Regions from separate parts of the Homo sapiens genome. Here region 2 is linked to region 1. Evidence: fine-mapped expression QTL. A gene starts in region 1. The other region holds a variant in brackets. All regions are shown on one strand. Distances are from middle to middle. Region 1 holds the start of SFT2D3 (SFT2 domain containing 3). Region 2 overlaps WDR33 (WD repeat domain 33).

Evidence for each region.
Region 2: its variant is fine-mapped to the expression of SFT2D3 in whole blood (INTERVAL, PIP above 0.99).

Annotation. Positions count from the first base shown.
Region 1 is chr2:127,694,357-127,704,945 of GRCh38, reverse strand. SFT2D3 (SFT2 domain containing 3) reads right to left here and starts at 3,449. Exons shown (of 1, transcript NM_032740.4): 1 at 1-3,449. The coding sequence starts at 3,417. The coding sequence ends at 2,770. It overlaps WDR33 (WD repeat domain 33), which reads left to right. Exons shown (of 22, transcript NM_018383.5): 22 at 1-3,919. RefSeq lists a silencer at 2,691-3,370 and enhancers at 3,690-4,211, 4,131-4,500, 4,212-4,733, 3,728-4,927.
Region 2 is chr2:127,717,892-127,729,093 of GRCh38, reverse strand. WDR33 (WD repeat domain 33) reads left to right here. Exons shown (of 22, transcript NM_018383.5): 8 at 2,317-2,443; 9 at 3,879-4,033; 10 at 4,129-4,207; 11 at 4,651-4,761; 12 at 5,747-5,841; 13 at 6,050-6,136; 14 at 6,364-6,503; 15 at 7,106-7,258; 16 at 8,741-9,829. Among named protein-coding and RNA genes, the nearest start is that of SFT2D3, 22 kb to the right of the region's middle. RefSeq lists an enhancer at 6,532-7,731. The variant ATTTG/G (reference allele first, on the strand shown) is at 5,020.

The sequences.
Region 1 (10,589 bases):
TTTTTTGTGTGTGTGTTTTTTGTAGAGATGGAGTTTCACCACTTTGTCTATGCTGGTTTCAAACTCCTGGGCTCAAGCGGTCCACCTGCTGTGGCCTCCCAAAGTGCTGGGATTGCAGATCTGAGCCACAGTACCTGGCCGCTGGTGCTGGAAGTTTCAATGGTTGCTTAGAAAAGGCATACTGATATAGTTTAACAGGATATGAAAATTTAACTGGTTCTCTATGAATGTAAAAAACAGCAAAAGCTAATTGATTTCTGTGGAGTGAGAAAATGTCAGCCATATACACTGCTTTTCAGTGTTAGAATCTAGAGACTATTTTTTTTTTAACTTTGAAATTACAGCTTATTTAATCAGCGCTCCACCATAAACATGCTATTAGGAGGCTCAAGATTGCTTTAGGTTATGGGTATTTCTTCACTCACCCCCAACTGGTATAGCTTAAAGAGAGAGAAACTGTAATCAAATTTCATGAAGCTAAAACCGGATCCAGAGACCAAACCCATATCAAGATTAGACTTTTTTTCCCTGAGATTCTAGTGGAAAAATTTTCATTATTTTGGGCTTTAACTTTAGAAACATAGTATCTCAGTAAGCAGATAACCAGATCACATTTAAAAATTTTCATTTTACCTTGAAGCTCTACTGGACTTGACAGATCACATTTTGAGAGTGAATTCATTTAAACAATAAACCTCTACATTATACTTATTAAATATATATGGCATTTAAAAACATCACTGTCAGCATACATACTAGATGTTGTGATTTGAAGCTTATAAAAAGTAGATTTTCAATGATGTTTGATTTGAGAAAAAATTTTTGAGACAAGGTCTCGCTGTTGCCTAGGCTGTGGTGCAGTGGTGTGATCACAGTTCACTGCAGCCTCAACCTCCTGGGCTCAAGTGATCTTCCCACCTCAGCCCCACCCCAAGTAGCTGGGATCACAGTTGTGTGCCACCATATCTGGCAAATTTTTTGAAGATTTTCTGTGGCGATGGGGTTTAACTGTGTTGCCCAGGCTGGTCTTGAACTCCTGGCCTCAAGTGATCCTCCCGCCTTGGCCTCCCAAAATGCTGGGATTACAGGTGTGAGCCACCAGCTGAGAAATGTTGAATTTTTAAGTTTTTATTTAAGAAATAAACATTGTAAAACATCATTATAAAACCCCCAACTATTGCAAGTTCTAGAGAAATTTAAAACTAGAACAGAAATTTAGGGGACTAGAAAGAGCAGCCAATGGCACAAGTCTTTACAATTAATTAAAAAAATAAATCATTCTGAAGATACTGCATTTGCTCTCTCACAAGCAGCCTCCTGAGGTAGGTAACCTTGTTTACTGATGGGGAACAAGGCAGTGTTCTTTACCAAATCTCAGGGCGGGTAGCCTGCAAGCCTACAGTGTGGATGTTGGCCACTTGTGTCACTTCTTGGGACGGGGCTTAGGGACCTGACTTACTTAGGAACATAAATTTTGGGGTTGGAGGAAGCAGCAGTGCTCTACTGCGGCACGACAGACACCCTGTTAAGGCAACACTGGGATCCAGCTCAGGAAAAGCATTACTTTCAAATTGTGCAAGCCAATGCACAGAAAAGTGGTCCTCAAACTTGGGGAACGTAGAATCACTTGGGGAGCTTTAAAAAGGTCCTGATGTCTGGGACCTACTTCCCAGGTTCTGACTGCATTGATCTGAGGTGTGGCTCTTCAAGTAACTGATGTGCAGTCAAGCGCGAGGACCACTGGCACACAATGTTTAAATTCTAAATATATTTTACTTCCTAGTGTATTGCTACTGACAAAACGTAGTTTTCTGGACTCATCAGAATGTTAGGCTCATACCTTCTGGCAATAAATTAAGGTAGTTAAAAGTAACTGCTGAACCTAAAATGAAGGCAGCAGCAATTAGATATAAAAAAATCTTAAGATCAGCCTGCAAATTGTAAACTAGTTTACAAAGCAGGCTATACAATGAGGAATAATTCGAGCTTGTAGAAATCCATGGTTTCCACCAGATACAGGTATTCCGGATCTAGAATTATCTTTCTATTTGCAGGATTTCCGAAGAGACCGTTAAGCATCTACGCGCCCCTTCCTGGATCCCATGCTTCTTGGGGCAGGAAATTTCTTTTGGTCCGTCGCTTTCGTCGTGAAATACACAACTAATTTTCCTTTCATGTTATAAGGCACCATATTTATGATTTTGTTAACTGAAGAAAAAACCCGAGATAAACCATCTTAAGTACTTTTAAAAGTCCAGTGGCTGAATTCGGTGTTTAATCTGATACCCTTCTGGATTCGCTGACACTGGAGAGAATAATTTCCAAGTCTTAGTATAGCCAAAACAAAAAACTACCGTCGCTAAGCTACATCTACCACTGGATTTTAAAATGACAAAACAGCCTGAGAAAAATCACAAGAGCAGCTAACTCGAAGAAAAATCCTTTTTCTTTACTCAGCCGAACCTAAGACCACAGTTACTTCGAAAGCAACTTCTAATAACCGTCTCACATCCTGTCACCAGTTCAATGACAAAATCTCAGTTTTCAGAGCGTGTGCCAAGTCCAGCACAAAAAGCTGACATCGAGGAGCTCCCAACGCTGCTGTCGCCTCCGCTGGCAGCAGCCGCTCCCGGATTAGACTCGCAGGCTGTTAGGGCAGGGCCTTCGCCACGGGCTTCCGCACAGCGGCGTGCAGTCCTCAGCTCGGCCGGCGCGGTCTCCGACGGCGCTGGCTCCGCGTACTTCCCCAGCGGCGAGGGCGCGAGGTCCTCACACGGGCAGCACCTTGGCGAGGCCGGCGCCGCGGCCCAGGCGACCCAGTGCGAGGCGCAGCGCGGTGCCGCCGCCCCAGGGCAGCAGCCCAACCAGCGCGGCCAGCAGCGCGGCCACCTGCGCGCCCGCGCCCAGCACCGTGAGCAGCGTGCTGCGAAGGCCCAGCGCGGCGAACAGCGTGGCGCCCAGCGCTGCCATGTAGAGCAGCGCGGGCCGGGACGGCGCTTCTTCGCAGCGCAGCAGGCGTCCGCACGCCGCGCCGCCCCGCAGCAGCGCGCTTCCCGCCAACGCCAGCGCCGAGCCCAGTGACCAGAGCAGCGCGAACTTGCGCGCGCGCAGCAGCAACACCGGTGCGTAGAGCGCGGCTAGGCCGAAACACAGTGCAGCCAGCAGCAGGCACCCGCCGCCCGCCGCCAGCCGCTGCCCGCGCGTCACGCTCGGGAGGCACGTCAGGCCGGCCGCTGCCGACTCCGCAGGGCTCCGCGCCCACGTCCAGCGCAAGCCCGCGCGGCCCAGCCACTCCTCCGCCGGCCGGTCCCCGGGCTCCTCCGCCTTCTCCGCGGCGAGCAGCGGCTCCGCGGCCGCCGGGCCGCCAGCTTTCCCCTGCGCCAGGTACTCCTGCAGCTGGCGGTGGAGGTCCGCCATCTTGGACAAGGCGGTGGCAGAAAGGAAAAGCTGCGGCTCACTTCCGGCCCTCCGCTGAAGCGGTTCGGTCTTCGGGCGGCAATTGGTCGGCGACGGCGAAAGGGGCAGGGCCTGCGGCGCTCGCGGAAGTGCCGCGGTGCCTGCTCTGCGGACTTTTGTGGTGTCCCCAAGTACCGTGGTCGCAGGTGCTGCCTGTCCGCTTGCAGTCGCCCTCCCAGCGCCTGACCCTCTTCCTTGTTCGGAGTAGGCGCCCTTGCGGTCTGGCTAAGTCCTGCCAGCATTAATAGTTGGAAGGCAGGGGTGGGTGTGGTTCTAAAGGGGCACAAGAAGTGACCCTTTTGCTGACGGAAATGTCTTATGGCCTCACTGCGTCTACCGTGGCGGTGATATTGTGCTAGTTTTGCAACATGGAGGAATGGGTAAAGGGTACACAGAATCTCTCTTGTTTCTTACAACTGAACACAAACAGTGATCTCAAAATAAAAATTTAATTTTTAAAAAAGTTCAGACCTGTGTAACTCAGGTGGGTTTTTTGGGGAAAGTTGCGTTCTGATTAGTTACCTCACTTGTAGTAATAGTGACCATCCTGATCATTTACCATGGGGTTGATAAAGGAAGGGTTGACACCCAGCACCCTCAACCTGCTTCTCTATTCTGTTCTCAGTTTCGGCCACAGGCCTGGCAACATCCTTGACTCCTTCGCGCCCCTTGTCCAAGACTCGGTGCTGCTGTCCCATGTGTTTGGTGTCACTCTCGTGCTCTGGACAGCGCCACGCCCAGGTGTCCTGACTCATCGTCACATCACTGTGACAAGCTGGCTCGCACGCAGGTCAATCCTGATCTGTTCCCAGGCCGCACCCACGTGCCCTGCTGTTTCTCAGAGCCTCCTAGAGGGTGTTTGCTTGTGGTTCCTCTCACAGGTCAGATTCCTCCAGATTCTTCCAGCTGCCTCCACAGCTCCCCTCACCACCTTGGCTTCCCCTGGGTGGCCCTGTGTCCTTTGTCCTCTGCCCTAGGTGGATGTAAGGTTAACGGCTTCCTGCTGTTTGGCTTCTCAGCCTTTCCATCCCCTGTGTGTAACTAATCTCCCCCATTAAGTTCCTTTTAATGCTTTCTGTTTTCTTGGTTGGATCCTGGCAGATGCAATTCTTTTTCAAAATATATTCTGATTTGTTATCTCACTTGATAATAATAGTGACCAGCCTGATCACTTAGCATGGGCTAAACCATTAGGATGGCTACAATCAAAACAAAAAAACAAAAACACACCAGAAAGTTACAAGTGCTGTCAAGGATGTGGAGAAACTAGAAGCCTTGTGCACCGTTGGTGGGAATGTAAAATGCTATATCCGCTGTGGAAAACAGTATGGAAGTTACTATAAAAAAAAAATATATATATATATATATACACACACACACACACAGACACATATAAACGTATATACACACATATTTGTATACAGTTATGTGTGTATGTGTGTATATAATTACAATCCAATCCAGCAGTTCCACTCTGGATATATACCCCAAAGAATTGAAAGCAGGGTCTCAGAGATTTGTATAACTCTTCACAGCAGAACTATTCATGTCAGTCAAGAGATGGAAGCAACCCAAGTGTCCACCAGCAGATCAATAAAATGTGATATATGCATACAACGGACTGTTACGCAGCCTTAAAAAGGAAGGAGATTCTGACACATGCTACGACATGGATGAACCTTGAGGACATTAGGCTGAGGGAAATAAGCCAGTCACAAAAAGGACCAATACTGCATGATTCCACTTCTGTGAGGTACTTAGAGTAGTCAAATACACAGAGCTAGAAAGTGGACTGGGTGCATAAATGCCCATCAGTGATGTTACCTAATCATTTATGCAGCTACCGTATAGAAAAGGCAGGAGTGTGCTGCTCATTTTATAGGTGAGGGAAGCTGAGAAATACCAAGAAGTGAGGTAACCTACTCAAGGTCACCTACAAAACTGACGATAGGGCAGCGTTAGGTTGTGATTCCTGGTTTCTAACCTTGTGGGCTTCCCATTGCAGAAAGAGGCCTTCACTGAGGGTCCCTCTGTGTGAGCCCTGGATGCGCTTTCTGCTGTGGTTTGGTTGCAGGGAGGGAAGGTCATTAACAAAACCCACTCTCCTCTAGCACTGCAGCAAAACTCATCCTAACAATCATCTTCACTTGCTTCCCTGTCTCCCTTGAAGCCCTTCAACCAGGCCTTCGTTCCACCGTGCCAGCAAAATTGTTCATTACAAAATCGCCAGACGCTGTCGGCTAGTGCGGTGAGTTTCGGCCCTCAGCCCCAGGACGGCACCGTGGGCTCCTCTCTTGACTGTTCCTCCTCCTGAGACCTCAGCGTTGTTGCGCCTGGGATATCCCCTCTTTTCTCTCTCGGCACCCTCTGGCCCAGCCCGTGTTGTTAAAACCCTCTGCGTGCAGAGCGTCCCCCACTTCTCCACCGGGCATCTAATAGACACCCTGGAGGTGACATGCAGAACCAAACACTTCACTCCTGACTTCCCCTCCTCATCCCCCAAAACCTGTAGCTAACCCCTCCTTCCGCACCTCAAGAAATCGCACCCCATCAGCAAGTCCCACCAGCTCTACCTTGGAAACAGATCCAGTACCAGCCGATTCTCTCCTCCACCACTAACCCCACATCTGGGCGCCCCCCTGCACCCCACCACGGAGCCCCTGTTTTGGTCCATGCTTTCCTCACGGTTGTTCACACATCGGCCTGAGGGACCTTTGTCCACTGAGTCAGATGATGTCACTCCCCCAGTGCTCCCCACCTCACACTCACAGAAGCAACTTCCTCACCTCGCCCACGCTGCCCTGTGGAATGGCCGGGACCTGTCTGCCTCTACTCCCCTGCTTTCTCCCCACTCCATGCCAGTCTATGACTGGTGGCCTTTGGGTTGTTTCTGGATCTGTCAAACATGTTCCCACTTCGGTGCCTTTGTCCTTGCTGTTCTCGGCCTAGAGCATTCCTCCTCACCCCAAATATCTTCACAGCGCCCTCCCTCATTCCTTCAGGTCTCTACTTCAATGTCACTTTTCAAAATGTCTTTCCCTGACTTCCCCGAAGCAGCAGCTCCCATCACCCTCCACCCTTTCCACTCACAAGCATAATGGACGGTAGCACACTCGTTTCCTGGGTGGTCTAAGAACAGGCAAATGCCTTTCTGAGCCCTCCCTCCCTCCCGATCCTTCATTTTGAGCCTGTCCTTCCTTCTGGGCTCCATTCACAGTGGACGTTGATGTGGATGGAGATGCAAAGGACCCAGACTCACACACATGCAGCAGGGCCCTGAAAGGATTTTTTTTTTAATTTCTTGTTCTGAAACCCTATTTCTCTGTGGTACTCGATGGCCTTGTCCCCACGGGGAGAAGCCTGGCTTTTCAGGAGCTTTAGATTTCACCGTGTCAGCACCAGGCAGGGCCTGGCCTCAGCTCTCGCAGCCACCGCATCTGCACATCCTGGGCAGGGGCTCTTCAGATGCCCGCGTCCTCCCTTCCAGTATTGTTGGACTTTAGCATAAGGTCAGGCAGGTCCCAGCTCCCACCTCCCCAAGGGGAAGGGGCCACAGCCAGCCTTTTCTTCTGCCGAGGTCTTTCACCTTGACCTGAGGAAGCAGCACCCTTCGCACCAAATCCTCTCCCACTTGCAGGAAATTATATTTTCTCCCAGAGCCCAGCAAGTGTTATCCACGCTTCTTTTGAGGGCTTTCCAGAGTGGCGTCTGCCTCCCTTCCCTGTCTGTCATGGCCCTCTCTGTTCAGCTGGGTTTACTTGTCCCCTGCCGGGCCGCAACCTGAACTACATTCTCCCTTCCTTCAGTGTGGCGGGTCAGCTAGCGCCAACCACCCCCTCATTTTTGAGACAGGATCTTGCTCTGCTGCCCAGGCTGGAATGCAATGGTGCGATCTTGGCTCACTGCAAACTCCGCCTCCCGGGTTCAAGCGATTCTCCCACCTCAGCCTCTGGAGTAGCTGAGATTACAGGCGCCTGCCTGTAGACGGGGTTTCCACAGATGGTGCAGGTGGTCTCCAACTTCAGAGCTCAAGTGATCCGCCCACCTCAGCCTCCCAAAGTGCTGGGATTACAGGCATGAGCTACCGCACCAGGCCCACCAGTGCCCCCTTTCAAAACTGAAATCTAGTAATGTCCTCTTTATCTACTATTCTTCAGTGGCTCCTTATTTCCTACAGATTAAATTCTAATTCCCTGCCTGCCACCCAGCCTTCTAGGCCCTGCCTTACGCCCCTGTGGCTCTCCCCGATGCTCTGTGGGGTCCCTCTGGACCTAGCAGTTTGGAGACTCCCTTCTTCTGTGGCTTTGCTGAGCCTGGGCTCTCTGCTGGGTGGACCTCTGTCTACTGCTCCTTCCCCTCCCTCTCCCAAGCATCCCCTTCCTCCAGGTCAGTCCTCAGGGCCCACACAGCCCTGTCACTGACTGGTGACATTGCCAATGCCTTGAGGAGTTTTGTTATCAAACAAATGGGCTCACTGCTCAAGGCACAGCGAAACCAGTAACACTGGCAGCAGCTTTTGAGAAAAGAAAGGTTTCATTGCAAAACTGACAAGCAAGGAGGCAGGAGTGGGGCTCAAATCTGTCTCCCCAGTTTGAGGTCTGGGGTAAGCTTTAAGGGATCAGAGGGCAAGGGAAGTGATTGAGCAGTGTTGGCTTGGCAGGGTCTGATTGGCGGGCTTCAAATTTAACGATTTATGGAAAGGTTTGTCAAGGTAGATTTGGGCCCCAGTCTCCCAGGCTGACGCATCCCTGCTTCTGAAAGATTTCCATGTTCAGGTTCCAGTCCTGTCCTGGTCTTCTTTGTTCCGAGGGGAGGAGTCATTGGTTCTGGGTATTGTTAGAGGTCAAAGCTTGTTCCATTGTGCATGCCTGGGCAACATGGCTTGCAGTTTTGGCTCTGTTGTACCTACAAAGCAATGCGACATTCTGTCATCAACAAGGTAGGCCCAGTATGCGCTGGTCTCGCAGTTATAGTTTCTTCTTTTATTTACTAATTTTTAAAAGAATACCTAACTGCTTGCGTGGTGATGGTCTTCTCAAGTCTCATTTCTTTGAGTCCTGCTTCCCAGCCCCTGTCACTGTCTTCATTGCCTTGGCTTTTCCGGGTGACCTCAAGTTGGGTGGCTCAGGCTTTGTGGCAAATGTTGGCTCACCAGGCTGATTCATCATGGCTCAGTCACTGTCTGGGTTGGTCGCCTGGCCCTGGTGATCTTCCTCAGGCACAGTGCCAAAGCACTTGCCACAAAATGATGTCTCCTGTCCCCCCGACCTTGGGGCAGCAGAGCCTCTCCGTGGCCACTGGCTCATAGAGCTTCTGCACTGAGGGAGGTGCTCCGGCCAAGGCAGTGACCAGCAGCCACATGTAGCCTCTGCACCTGCGGGGCAGCTGAGGAACTGAATTTTAAATTTTAATTAACTTTAGTTAATTCATTATTTATATTGAATTATATTTAAAACATCATAATGTACCCACATTATTATATGTAACATACATAATATACTATTAATATATATTTATCATAGCCACATGTAGCTACTGTATTCCCACTGCCCCTCTGGAGCCTGTCAGAGATAGGGGGCGCAGTTGGCATTGTCACCACGCTGCCTGCACTTGAGTGCGAGCGGGTGCCCAGGGAGCGCTGGCGGCGCTCGCGTGCTGCTGGGGATGGGCAGACTCCTCGAGGGGCGCGGGCGAACGGTCGGGCTCTTGGACGTGGGGGGGCAGCGGCGTGCGGGGCCCTCCCCCGGTTTTCTCCTTACGCGTCCTGGGGAAACTGAGGACGCAGACGCCCTCCCACAGGAGCGTCTGAGCCAGGGCGCCTCCCAGGATGCCTCGCTGTCCCTCAGGCCTTCGTAGCGTCGGCTTGTCCAGTTGGCACCGCCCGTCCCGCTCTCTGGGGGCCCTGGCACCTCGGCCCCGCGCGGGCCTGTCCCGGGACCCCGCCGGCCGCGGGCCGCTCTCACGTGCTTTTGGCTGCAGCCCTACCCCGCTAGATTAGATTTAAAATCGCTAAAGGGGCCCTGTTCTGATAGCCTTAGAGATAAATAAGCACCTTATATAAATGGAATAGTCCCGAATTTTTCAGAAGTTGGGGAAATGTAACTTCTAATATGTTAATGGTCAAAAAGGAAAATTATTTTCATAAAAACTGACTCAGAAATGTTTTAAGAATTCAAAATCTTGTTATTTAGACAAATGTGACTGGGTTAATATTTTTGGCTTAATAAAAACAGCTATGGGCCAGGCGCAGTGACTCACGCCTGTAATCTCAGCACTTTGGGAGGCTGAAGCCAGCAGGTCATGAGCCCAGGAGTTCAAGACCAGCCTGGCCAACATGATGAAACCCCGTCTCTACAAAAATACAAGAAATTAGCCGGGCACAGTGGCGCGCGCCTGTGGTCCCAGCTTCTGCAGAGGCTGAGGCGAGAGGGTTGCTTGAGCTGGGGAAGTCAAGGCTGCAGTGAGCCTAGATCTTAACCACTGCACTTCAGCCTGGGCGACAGAGGGAGACCCTAAATCAAAAAAAAAAAAAAAAAAAAAGGAAAGAAAAAACTCATTTAGAAAGGGCTAATTTCTGTACAATTATTTTCCTTCTCTGTTGATTTTAAATAAACATTTAAATACTTTATTGTCATGGCCAGATGCAGTGGCTCACGCCTGTAATCCCAGCACTTTGGGAGGCCGAGGTGGGCGGATCACGAGGTCAAGAGATCAAGACCATCCTGGCCAACATGCGGAAACCCTGTCTCTACCAAAAATACAAGAATTAGCTGGGCGTGGTGGTGCGCGCCTGTAGTCCCAGCTACTCCGGAGGCTGAGGCAGGAGAATCCCTTGAACCAAGGAGGTGGAGGTTGCAGTGAGCTGAGATCGCGCCACTGCACTCCAGCTTGGCGACAGAGCGAGACTCAGTCTAAAACAAAAACAAAGACAAAAAAACCAGAAATTATTGTCAGTTTGAAATGAATAGCCAAATAGTTTCTCATGATTTGACTTCTATTTTAAGTGGTTAAATCTCTTGATAACTTTGCTTTTTGCCTTCCCAATATTGAGTCCTAATGTAAAATAAAATAAGATAAAATTCCCCAGGTTTTGCCTGGAACGTCATTTTTGAGAATGGCATTCATTTGGGATA
Region 2 (11,202 bases), 24 kb before region 1:
CAGTTTGATTTATATTTGAGATGTGTATGGATATGGGTAAATTCATGAGATTCCTCACTTGCTTGAATTTTACTTTAATAAATTTTAGAGAACATTAGAAAGCAAAGCAGCTGAAGTTTATTTTGTGGTTCCTTTTGGGTTCATAGTTTTTTTGTTTTTACGTATGCTTCTTTAAACATACCTTAAAACTAAACAGACATACGTTCTTTATGTAATAAACGTGTCCCAGAGAAGATGAGGGTAGATAGAGACGGCTGTTAAGAATATGAACTTTTCATATTGTACATTGTAATTTGAAACTGCTTTCTCAGGCATTTCTCATAATCCCAAATTTGATTGATTAATGCATACATAGCTATACATAATATTTATTTTTAGGTGACAATGGCCCATAGAGTTTTAAAATTCCCTACCTTTTCAGGGGCAAATAGTTAATTAAAATTTCTTAAGGCAAACAAGGGGCAAGGGGGACTGAAGTATTTTTATATTTCAATTATTCCATCTTCAGTTATTTTTCTTTTTAAAAGACAAAGCAACAGCAAAACCTCTCTTCCCCCTTCCCACCCAGTTACAAAATATGTTCATTGTAGAAAATATAAAAATATAGAATAAACATGGGGAGAGAGAATCAATACCACCTTCCAGCTTAATATTATTTCTGTTAACAATTCGGTGTCTAGACTTCTTGGCTTTTTTCTTTAATTTAGATAAGCTCACACAGTCACTCATGTTATTGACTGTTTGCCTTTTACAGTGATGGTATACACTGGTGTATTTTTTTAAAATAAATTATGAACATTTTAATCATGCCATTAAATCATCTATAGGGTCATTTATAATAGGTGCATCACATTCCTTTAAGTACATATGCCACACTGCAATTTATTTTGTAATATATTTGTGTTCTATTAAAAACAAATTGTGTCAGTAAATGTCCTTGCAGATAAATCCCTTTGCACATCCATTATTTCCTAATGATAAAATCTAAGACATGAGATTATTGGGTTGTAGGAGATGTACTTTCTCATACTTTTGATACATACAGCCAAACTGTTCTCCAGATTGTTGTCACCTCCCTACATGCTTGCCAGTACGGGGTATTGTGTTGGGATAAACCTATGTCCATTTGAGACCCAAATTGTCTCCCCTTATGAACGGGTACAAATCACTGTCGGTGCCTCTACCCCGTCTCTTCTTTCCCACTTCACTTCCCTTTGTCTGTATTCTTCTGTATCCTTCCTTGTTTCCACCTCAGAACTTCACAGAAGCTGGATTTGATCCAGGGTAGAGAAGGAAGCTCTGAATGTTCTTCCTCACTCCTCATCTGCTTCTTAGTTTATTTGTTATGTAAAATATCCTTGGGGCTTTGTACAGCATCCAGTTTTTCAAAAATCATATCCATTTTTTTCAAATTTACAAATTGACTTTCACGTTTATGACTTTTAGTAAGTTAATCTATTACACTTGTGAAGTGAGCTAATGCTCTAGCACGGTGGTTACTGAAGTAACCATCCTTGGAATCCCATGGACCAGGCTCAGGGACTCTCTCCTGTTCTTGCTGACTGGCTTTGGGATCTAGGATGTGTTATTTAACCCTTCCAGCCCTTCTGTTTCTTCACTTGTAAAATGGAGATAATGCTAATACTTTCCTCAGGATTTTGTGAAGATTTAAAAAGATGATGCTTATAAGTGCTCATTACACTGCCTAAAATATAGCAGGCCTGCAGTAGGATAGCTGTTATTATTACCTCATCTAACTGTCACAACATGTGCGAATCAAGCAGAGTGTATTTCTCCTGCATTTCAGTAAACAGGAGCTGAAAGCTGGCTTTTCCTGTCATTCCATCTAGAAAGTGGTGTCCTAAATTCCTAAATGGTGGTCCCAAAGTCCTAAATTCAGGTTGAATCAAGTTCGTCTGTAAGAACTATCACAAAGTGGGACAACTGAAGTGAGTGACAGGGATTGTGCCCTATAATCAGGGTAATCGGGAACAACATGAGACACTTCAAAATCTTTACATAATGGGGTCTTGAGGGGTGCAGCCTCCAAAAGCCTCGACTGACCTCCCGGCAAGTAGGTGAGAAGATGCACTTGGGTCCAGGAGAGGACTGGCTCCTGTGTGTCTTGACATAGGAGGAGAGGATACTGTATCTGAAAAATTTCCAGACACACAGAGGCCAAAGAGTCTTCACAAAACAAGTTTTAAGTTGACTGAGCACTGAGAGCAAAACATTTACTAGGTTTCTCTACTTTGGTTTAAATTGCTTTAAATGCATGTAACTAATTAGGTTTTAATCCTAACTTGTTTCCGACAGGGCATGGTGCTGATGTGAAATGTGTAGACTGGCATCCAACCAAAGGGTTAGTTGTTTCAGGAAGTAAAGATAGTCAACAGCCAATCAAGTTCTGGGATCCCAAGACTGGGCAGAGTCTTGCAACACTGTAAGTGACAGGAACCCCACCTTGGCCCCTGAACAAAGGGGAGCAAAGCAGTGTGTCCTTTAACTTTTAGCTTTGTTTTCTCTTATGTATTTCTGGAAGAGTCATTTAGGCAACAGATGGACTTGGATCTATAGACTTCTTATGAATTAAATATGATTCATCTCTGAACTCTTAATGAAGTAAGGCTTGTTTTTGTCCTGCCACATAGACCTAAGTTTAATTTGGTTGTTATATACGGGTGGGGAGGAGGATGAGGAGGGAGGTGGTTACTATTCTAGCCTATTGCCTGTCATCAGAATACCTTGTGGCACTGTGAGGAGTTGACGTGTGTGCCCCTTACTAGACACGGCCCAGCCTTCTCCATCTCACAACATCTGTTTCGAGAGGGTTTTCTTCTGGTTTTGAACCACTTCTCATTTTTTGTCTGATGGGCTTACTTACGATGCAGCTATGTAATCTAGTTTTCTCTTTCAGTTATTTGTGAACATTCACAGCTACATGCATATGTTAACATTTTTTTGACCAAGCATCCATTTCCTGGTCTTTCTGATTGGGAAGAGAACCATATTCAGAGTGAATTGGTTGGAGCAAGGCTGCTTTGTTGTACAACCCCAATGACCATGCCAACCTGGAATGCCTTGTGAATGCTCCCTTGGAGATATCCATTGTGCAGGCCAGGGGTTGTTGCATTGTCTTTAGTTCAAATTAACTTTCAGACTTTCCAGTCCATTTTTATGCTTTGTCTTAATTAGAGAAACTTTATGGAAGTTTCAAAATGTAATGAGCTTTATTGAATATTAATTTCTGTGTTCATGTGCTTCCCCTGCTTCACGGATAAATTTTACTGTTCAGTGGAAGCTCTGCTACTGTATTATTATTATTATTATTATTATTATTATTATTATTATTATTATTTTGAGACAGAGTCTCGCTCTGTCACCCAGACTAGAGTGCATTGGTGCAATCTCGGCTCACTGCAACCTCTGCCTCCTGGGTTCAAGTGATTCTCCTGCCTCAGCCTCCTGAGTAGCTGGGACTACAGGCATGCGCCATCACGCCTGGCTAATTTTTGTATTTTTAGTAGAGTCTGGGTTTCACCATGTTGGCCAGGCTGGTCTTGAACTGACCTCAGGTGATCCACTCGCCTAGGCTTCCCAAAGTGCTGGGATTACAGGCGTGAGCCATCACGCCCAGCCTCTGCTGCTTTTTTAACTGGTTGATGAGAGCTGTCTTTGTCTGGGCAGTGCATATTATTTCTGTCGTTGACTTGTTTCTTTCAAGTGTGTTTATAACTGTGATCCTTTAATGTTACAGGCTTTATTGCTTCTAGGCCAAACCTCTTGCCATCTTGATTAATTCGCTTTTCAACAAAAATGGCCATTGTATTTATACTTGTTTTGAATTCTGACATTTTTTTTTGATACTTTGTTTCTAGTCATGCCCATAAAAACACAGTAATGGAAGTGAAATTAAACCTCAATGGCAATTGGCTACTCACAGCATCACGTGATCATCTCTGTAAACTTTTTGATATCAGAAACCTAAAAGAAGAGCTTCAAGTCTTCCGAGGTCATAAGAAAGAAGCCACAGGTCAGTGGCTGTGATATGCTTCTCATTGACCACTGTTACCTGTAACATTCTCAGATCCTGATAATTGTGTCTTTTCCCATGTTTTTGTTCTGCAGCTGTGGCCTGGCATCCTGTTCATGAAGGACTTTTTGCCAGTGGAGGGTCTGATGGTTCTTTGTTATTCTGGCATGTTGGGTATGTAAGATTTATGTGAAAAAGTAGTGTATTTTGTGAAGAGAGCACGTGAATGTGTGCAGACATGATAGTTTTGTAGCTTTTCTAAGTGTTCATATATCCTATATCAGAGACTGCTTGCAGTTTTCAGTTCTGTAAATCCAGCTTGGAATAGAAAATGTACCTCTGTTTGTGGATATGGAAGTCATTAAGGAGGAATAAAATAGATTTTCTAGTTTCTAAATGCTTGCAGCCTTTTCCCCTGTGAAGTGCTCTTTGGATGAAAGGGTAACTGTCCTTTGGCAATGACAAGCCAATACCCCGAGACATGTGGAATTCACCAGAGTCCAAGTCCAGGCTTTGGTAGCTTCATTTTAAGAGTAACAGAAAATGTCTTTTTTGAGGGGGAGGGAGAAGCTGGGTAACTTTTGTGAACAAATCTTCTCTCTTTGGTGCTGTTGCAGGGTAGAGAAGGAAGTGGGTGGGATGGAGATGGCTCACGAAGGGATGATCTGGAGTCTGGCTTGGCATCCTCTTGGGCATATTCTCTGCTCAGGCTCAAATGACCATACTAGGTAAGCTTTATATTGAAATAGCAAAGCTTTATATGGAGCAACAGGAAATAAATACTGTATGTGTTTATTTTTATTGGTTGATTGATATAGTAATTTATATTCCAACTTATTCTTGGGAATATTTTTGTAGTGGTTTACAAATACTTATATTGCAATAAAGAGATTGGGTATTGAATATGGTTTTGGCTATTCAAATTTTGTTTTGCCTTCTGACTTAAAACAGAAGTTTTCCACTTTTATTTATTTATTTATTTATTT[ATTTG/G]AGACAGGGTCTCTGTCCAGGCTGGCGTGCAATGGTGCGGTCTCAGCTCACTATAGCCTCAACCTTCCTGGGCTCAGGTGATCCTCCTACCTCAGCCTCCTGAGTAGCTGAGACTATAGGAGCACACCACCACACCTGGCTAATTTTTGCATTTTTTGTAGAGATGGGGTTTCACCATGTTGCCCAGGCTGATGTCAAACTCCTGGGCTTAGGCAATCCTCCTGCCTCAGCCTCCCAAGGTGCTGGGATTACAGGCATGAGCCACCTTGCCCGGCCCCACATTTTATTTTTATTTTTATTATTATTTTAAGAGACAGAGTCTCACTCTGTCACCGAGACTAGAGTTCTGTGGTGAGATCACAGCTCACTGTAGCCTCAAACTCCTGGGCTCAAGCCATCTTCCCGCCTTATCCTCGTGAGTAGCTGAGACTACAGGTGTGTGCCACCACACCCAGCTAACTTTTTAATTTTTATTTTGTAGAGACAGGGTTTCGCTATGTTGCCCAGGCTGGTCTTGGACTCCTGGACTTAATCCTCCTGCCACAGCCTCCCAAAGTGCTGGGATTACAGATGTGAGCCAAAGTGTATGACCTCACATTTTAAATTTGTAGAAGAAACAAATTGTAAAAATGTGTTGTGTTTACCAAGGGTCTGCCTAGTACTGTTTAGTGCCCAAAAAAATAGTGAAGCCATGCTTCTTTTCTCCTTTAATTATTTTTACAGCAAATTCTGGACTCGAAACCGACCAGGTGATAAAATGCGAGATCGATATAATCTAAACCTTTTACCTGGAATGTCTGAAGATGGAGTAGAATATGGTGAGACTCTTGCACATCTGTCCTTCTTTGAAATCTGGTATTCTATTACAGAAGTGTTAGATGTTGGGAAGATTATACAAAATGAATTTTAATTTTATAGTAGATTTATTTATAAATCATCAGTGACATTCATTTTTATAAAGCATTAATTTTATCAGTCGCTACTTTTGTAAATTCTCTATTGACAATGGTGTATTACTATTTATAGATGACCTCGAACCTAATAGCCTGGCAGTAATTCCAGGAATGGGAATACCAGAACAACTAAAATTAGCTATGGAACAAGAACAGATGGGTAAGAGAAGTTACACAGACACATTTAATTTTTACAAATTTTTTCTTGACCCGTTTATGTTCCTGATAAATATATTGAAATACCAAAATGATTTATGTTGAGAAATGTTGATAAAAATTATATAAATGACATAATACTTAAAATCTATTCTTCCAATAATGTGTTCATTGATCAAGTGGCCAATTTCTTTTATTTAAGAGGCAAACCACTTTTCTTTACGGTTACAGGGAAAGATGAATCAAATGAAATTGAAATGACAATTCCAGGTTTAGATTGGGGAATGGAGGAAGTGATGCAAAAGGATCAGAAAAAAGTACCTCAGAAGAAAGTTCCTTATGCAAAACCCATTCCTGCTCAGTTCCAGCAGGTAAGTAAAAGTGACTCCACCTCATCCACGCAGAGAGGTTTTGGTTGGTTAGTTTGAGGTTTCTCTTGGATTATCTCACTGTTGAAGGTGTTTCTGTACTGGAGCATTTTTCCCATGTTCACGTACTCTTAGACATGGTTCTCATCTACTGCTTTGCAGTTGTATTGAGTTTGTTATCAGTCTTCTCTGTTCTGTCCTCACCTGCTTATTATCATCCATGCTATGAGAGGAAATAGAAGAAAGAGGCATGGAGCAGAGGGAGTATGGGAGTATGTTGCTTCTCTTCTCCATTGTTTATCTATCTTGTGCTTTAATTGTCCCCTCAACACAAAGTGCATGTACCCTGTGAAGAGGCTGGCAAGCTTTGCATTCTTAATAACATGCAGTGTCTTGCAGCTTTTATCACCATAGTAATTTCTACCTAGTAATATGTCAGTAAGAATTAGCATGAGTCATGTACTTGAGTCATGGAGAAAAGGTAAAAAGAAATAAAATCGGTTCAGAGGTTAGATTGAGCAGATGACATTGTAGAGTGGTTTTCTCATTCTATCATTGTAATTTTCATACTTAGCGTACATTTTAATATTCTCTTCTTTCCCAAGGCTTGGATGCAAAATAAAGTTCCAATTCCTGCTCCAAATGAGGTGCTGAATGACAGAAAAGAAGACATTAAATTGGAAGAGAAGAAAAAAACACAAGCAGAAATTGAGCAAGAAATGGCTACATTACAATATACTAACCCACAACTTCTGGAGGTGTGTGAAGCTCTGTAGGGGGGAATTCAAGATGATCTAAGAGGGTAGTGGTGACATTTTTATTGATAGGCTCTTAAGGAAAAGGGAAGGGGCTCTCCCATGGTCTGACAAACACCGCCATTTCCTGTTGCTATGCTAGAAGACTAGTTTCCAAAAGAATCCTGTTTCTTAAAATTTTTTAAAATGTGTTATTTATGTATTTTGTTTTATTTATTTTATTTTAGAGACAGAGTCATGCCCTGTCACCCAGGCTGGAATGCAGTGGTGCGATCACGGCTTGCTACAACCTCTGCCTCCCAGGCTCAAGTGATCTTCCCACATTAAGCCTCTTGAGTGGCAGAGACCACAGGCATGCACCATCACGTCTGACTAATTTTTTTTTAAGTGACTTCCTTGAGTCATATCTTGGACTTTTAAAACCCAATTAGGGTCAGGCGTGGTGGCTTACACCTGTAATCCCAGCACTTTGGGAGGCCGAGGCAGACAGATCACCTGAGATCAGGAGTTTGAGACCAGCATGGTCAACATGGTGAAACCCCACCTCTACTGAAAATACAAAAATTAGCTGGGCATGGTGGTGCATGCCTGTGGTCCCAGTGACATGGGCGGCTGAGGCAGGAAAATGGCTTGAACTCCAGAGGCAGAAGTTTCAGTGAGCCGAGATCGTACCACTGCACTCCAGCCTGTGCCACAAAGTGAGACTCTGTCTCAAAAACAACAACAACAACATAAAAAAACTGAATTAGTGGGGCAGTGAGTAGATCTAAGTTAAATATACATTTTTAATAGAAAAGATAAAGCCAACATAGTTTTAATTTGAATTCACCTGTTTATGAAAGAGTTTTTCCTTTTTGTCTGCTCATATAGCAGGTAGCTTGTTCTTATTTTTCTTATCTATGTTAGCTACCAAGAATGATGAATTAGTGGTGAATTATTGGGCTTTCCCTGATCAAGATGGACAAAAATAATCCTGACTAGGCCAGGCACAGTGGCTCACGCCTGTAATCCCAGCACTTTGGGAGGCGAGGCGGGAGGATCAGCTGAACCCAGGAGTTTGAGATCAGCCTGGGCAATATAGCAAGACCCTGTCTCTACAAATAATAATTAGCTGGGTGTGGTGGCATGTGCCTGTAGTCCCAGCTACTCCGGAGGCCGAGGTGGGAGGATCACTTGAGCCCAGGAGGGTGAGGCTGTAGTGAACCACGATCGTACCACTGCATTCCAGCTTGGGGGACAGAAAAAAAAAATAAGGAAAAAAAAATCCTTACTACTGTGTCCCAGGACTTAAAAAGAATGAGAAAGAACCTAAAACTCCTTACAGTGCTTGAGTGTTGCATGGACTCTAATTACCACTGGAGCGTGAAGAGTTTGAGCAGTTTTTATGTTTGAGAGTCCCCTAACAGAATACATGATAGCAATATTGTCATCTTCAAGGGCTCTGGCCTGTTTATTCAACATGCTTTTTTCTTTCTTTCTTTCCAGCAACTTAAAATTGAAAGACTTGCACAGAAACAAGTTGAGCAAATTCAGCCTCCTCCCTCATCTGGCACCCCTCTCCTCGGACCCCAGCCTTTTCCAGGACAAGGTCCAATGTCTCAGATTCCTCAAGGTTTTCAACAGCCCCATCCATCTCAGCAGATGCCAATGAACATGGCTCAAATGGGGCCTCCAGGTCCACAGGGACAGTTTAGGCCTCCTGGACCCCAGGGACAAATGGGACCACAAGGTCCTCCACTGCATCAGGGAGGTGGGGGGCCACAAGGATTCATGGGACCACAGGGGCCCCAGGGCCCGCCCCAGGGGTTGCCACGGCCTCAGGACATGCATGGGCCCCAAGGAATGCAGAGGCATCCTGGACCTCATGGCCCTTTGGGACCTCAAGGGCCACCTGGACCACAAGGTAGTTCTGGTCCTCAAGGTCATATGGGTCCTCAGGGTCCACCTGGCCCACAGGGTCACATAGGCCCCCAAGGCCCGCCTGGCCCTCAGGGTCACTTGGGCCCACAGGGGCCTCCGGGTACTCAAGGTATGCAGGGACCACCTGGTCCCAGAGGAATGCAAGGGCCTCCTCATCCTCATGGGATCCAAGGCGGACCAGGGTCTCAAGGGATCCAAGGTCCTGTGTCTCAGGGACCTCTGATGGGATTGAATCCAAGAGGAATGCAGGGGCCTCCAGGCCCCCGGGAGAACCAGGGTCCTGCTCCCCAAGGGATGATTATGGGCCACCCGCCTCAAGAGATGAGAGGACCTCACCCTCCAGGTGGACTACTGGGACACGGCCCTCAGGAAATGAGAGGTCCTCAGGAGATCCGAGGCATGCAGGGGCCTCCACCCCAAGGATCAATGCTGGGACCTCCCCAGGAATTGCGAGGGCCTCCAGGCTCACAAAGTCAGCAGGGGCCGCCCCAGGGCTCTTTAGGACCTCCACCCCAGGGTGGCATGCAAGGACCCCCCGGACCTCAGGGACAGCAGAACCCAGCAAGAGGGCCACATCCATCTCAAGGGCCAATACCATTCCAGCAACAGAAAACGCCTCTGCTAGGTGATGGGCCCCGGGCCCCCTTCAACCAGGTATTATTCATTTCCAACTCACGGGCACATTGGGAAAATACACTCTGCACAGAAGTAATACTGCTGAGTATTGTGGAAAATGGTCACAGCTGGATATAAATACTTATCAAGTAGTGACAGTAGCTTAAGATACTAGCATCCTGGCTGAAGAATGAAATCATAAGAATGATGAGTTAGGTTATACTCCCATTAAGTACATCTCAGTATTCATTTTTACTTCTCACCATTTTTCTTTTTTTGGTAATAGAGTTTCTTCAGAAAAGGTCAACTCTCATTTGAGTACAGCTGATAATTGTCCCAGGGCTCCAGGAGAGCTGTGGCCCTGAGGAGGAAGCATGTTTTACATGGTGGTCGGCTCTGAGGCTGTCATGCCTCCTTTCTGGGCCCTTTACATTGCAGCCTGGTGTTCCATGGGCCTGCCAGCCACAGAATCACTTCCTGTCTGCCAACTCTACTTTTAAAAGATAGGATGGGATATTTAACTCATGAGTATACTATAGACTCTGTACCTCACTCTGTTTATTACAGTGAATAGAAATAAAGAGACTGTTATTCCAGAATTGAGCATTCTGGAAATGGTGACCCTTTGGATGAAACTCTGCTCAAGTTGTTTTCAGCTCACATATAAAAGTATTTGCAGGGGGGAGCATTTCTGTAGAAATTCTCCTTCTTTGAGGATTCTGTTTTTGTTAGCCAATTTTTATTGCTCATGCGCTGAGCTCGTGCTTGAGAGATGGTGTGAGGAAAGTTCAGGTTGCTTGGGGGAGTGAATTACGAAAAGAATTGCATGAGCATAAATAGATGTAATACTGCTCAGCTATGTGCATTTTATGCTTTTCTCAAGTTCTTAGTCTGGAGGCATTATTTGGGTATGAATAACTGAGTTTTGTCCCTGAAAACTCACTTTTGGTCCAGTGTGGACCAAAAGTGAGCGAGTCAGCTAATGTTGACTCCCTGAGACACTTGGAGAAAGGGGATGCTACAGATGTAGAAAGCACAGTCTGTTTTGGTTTTTCAAATACCACCACGAATCCCTAATGTAAAGATGACCATTGGGTTTCCTGAACTCAACTACTAAGCTAAAACAAATAAATTATCTACTATTCTAAAGTAGGTCTTCCAGAACCTAAAAGTGTCGTAGTCATGGAGAATCTGATGATGTCTGAGTTATTTCCAGATTTTTATTCAGCACTTCTCAGAAGTTAGGATGAATTAAGTATAGGATTGCCATTCTAAATTGCCCTAAAACTTGAAGTATTATATATTTTATTAATTTACTGCTCAGTTGTATGTGTGTATAATATTATTTATTGTAAGTTATTTTCCTAACTTTCTGGTAGTAAATTAACAGTTTTCATTTTGGAGGATTAAAA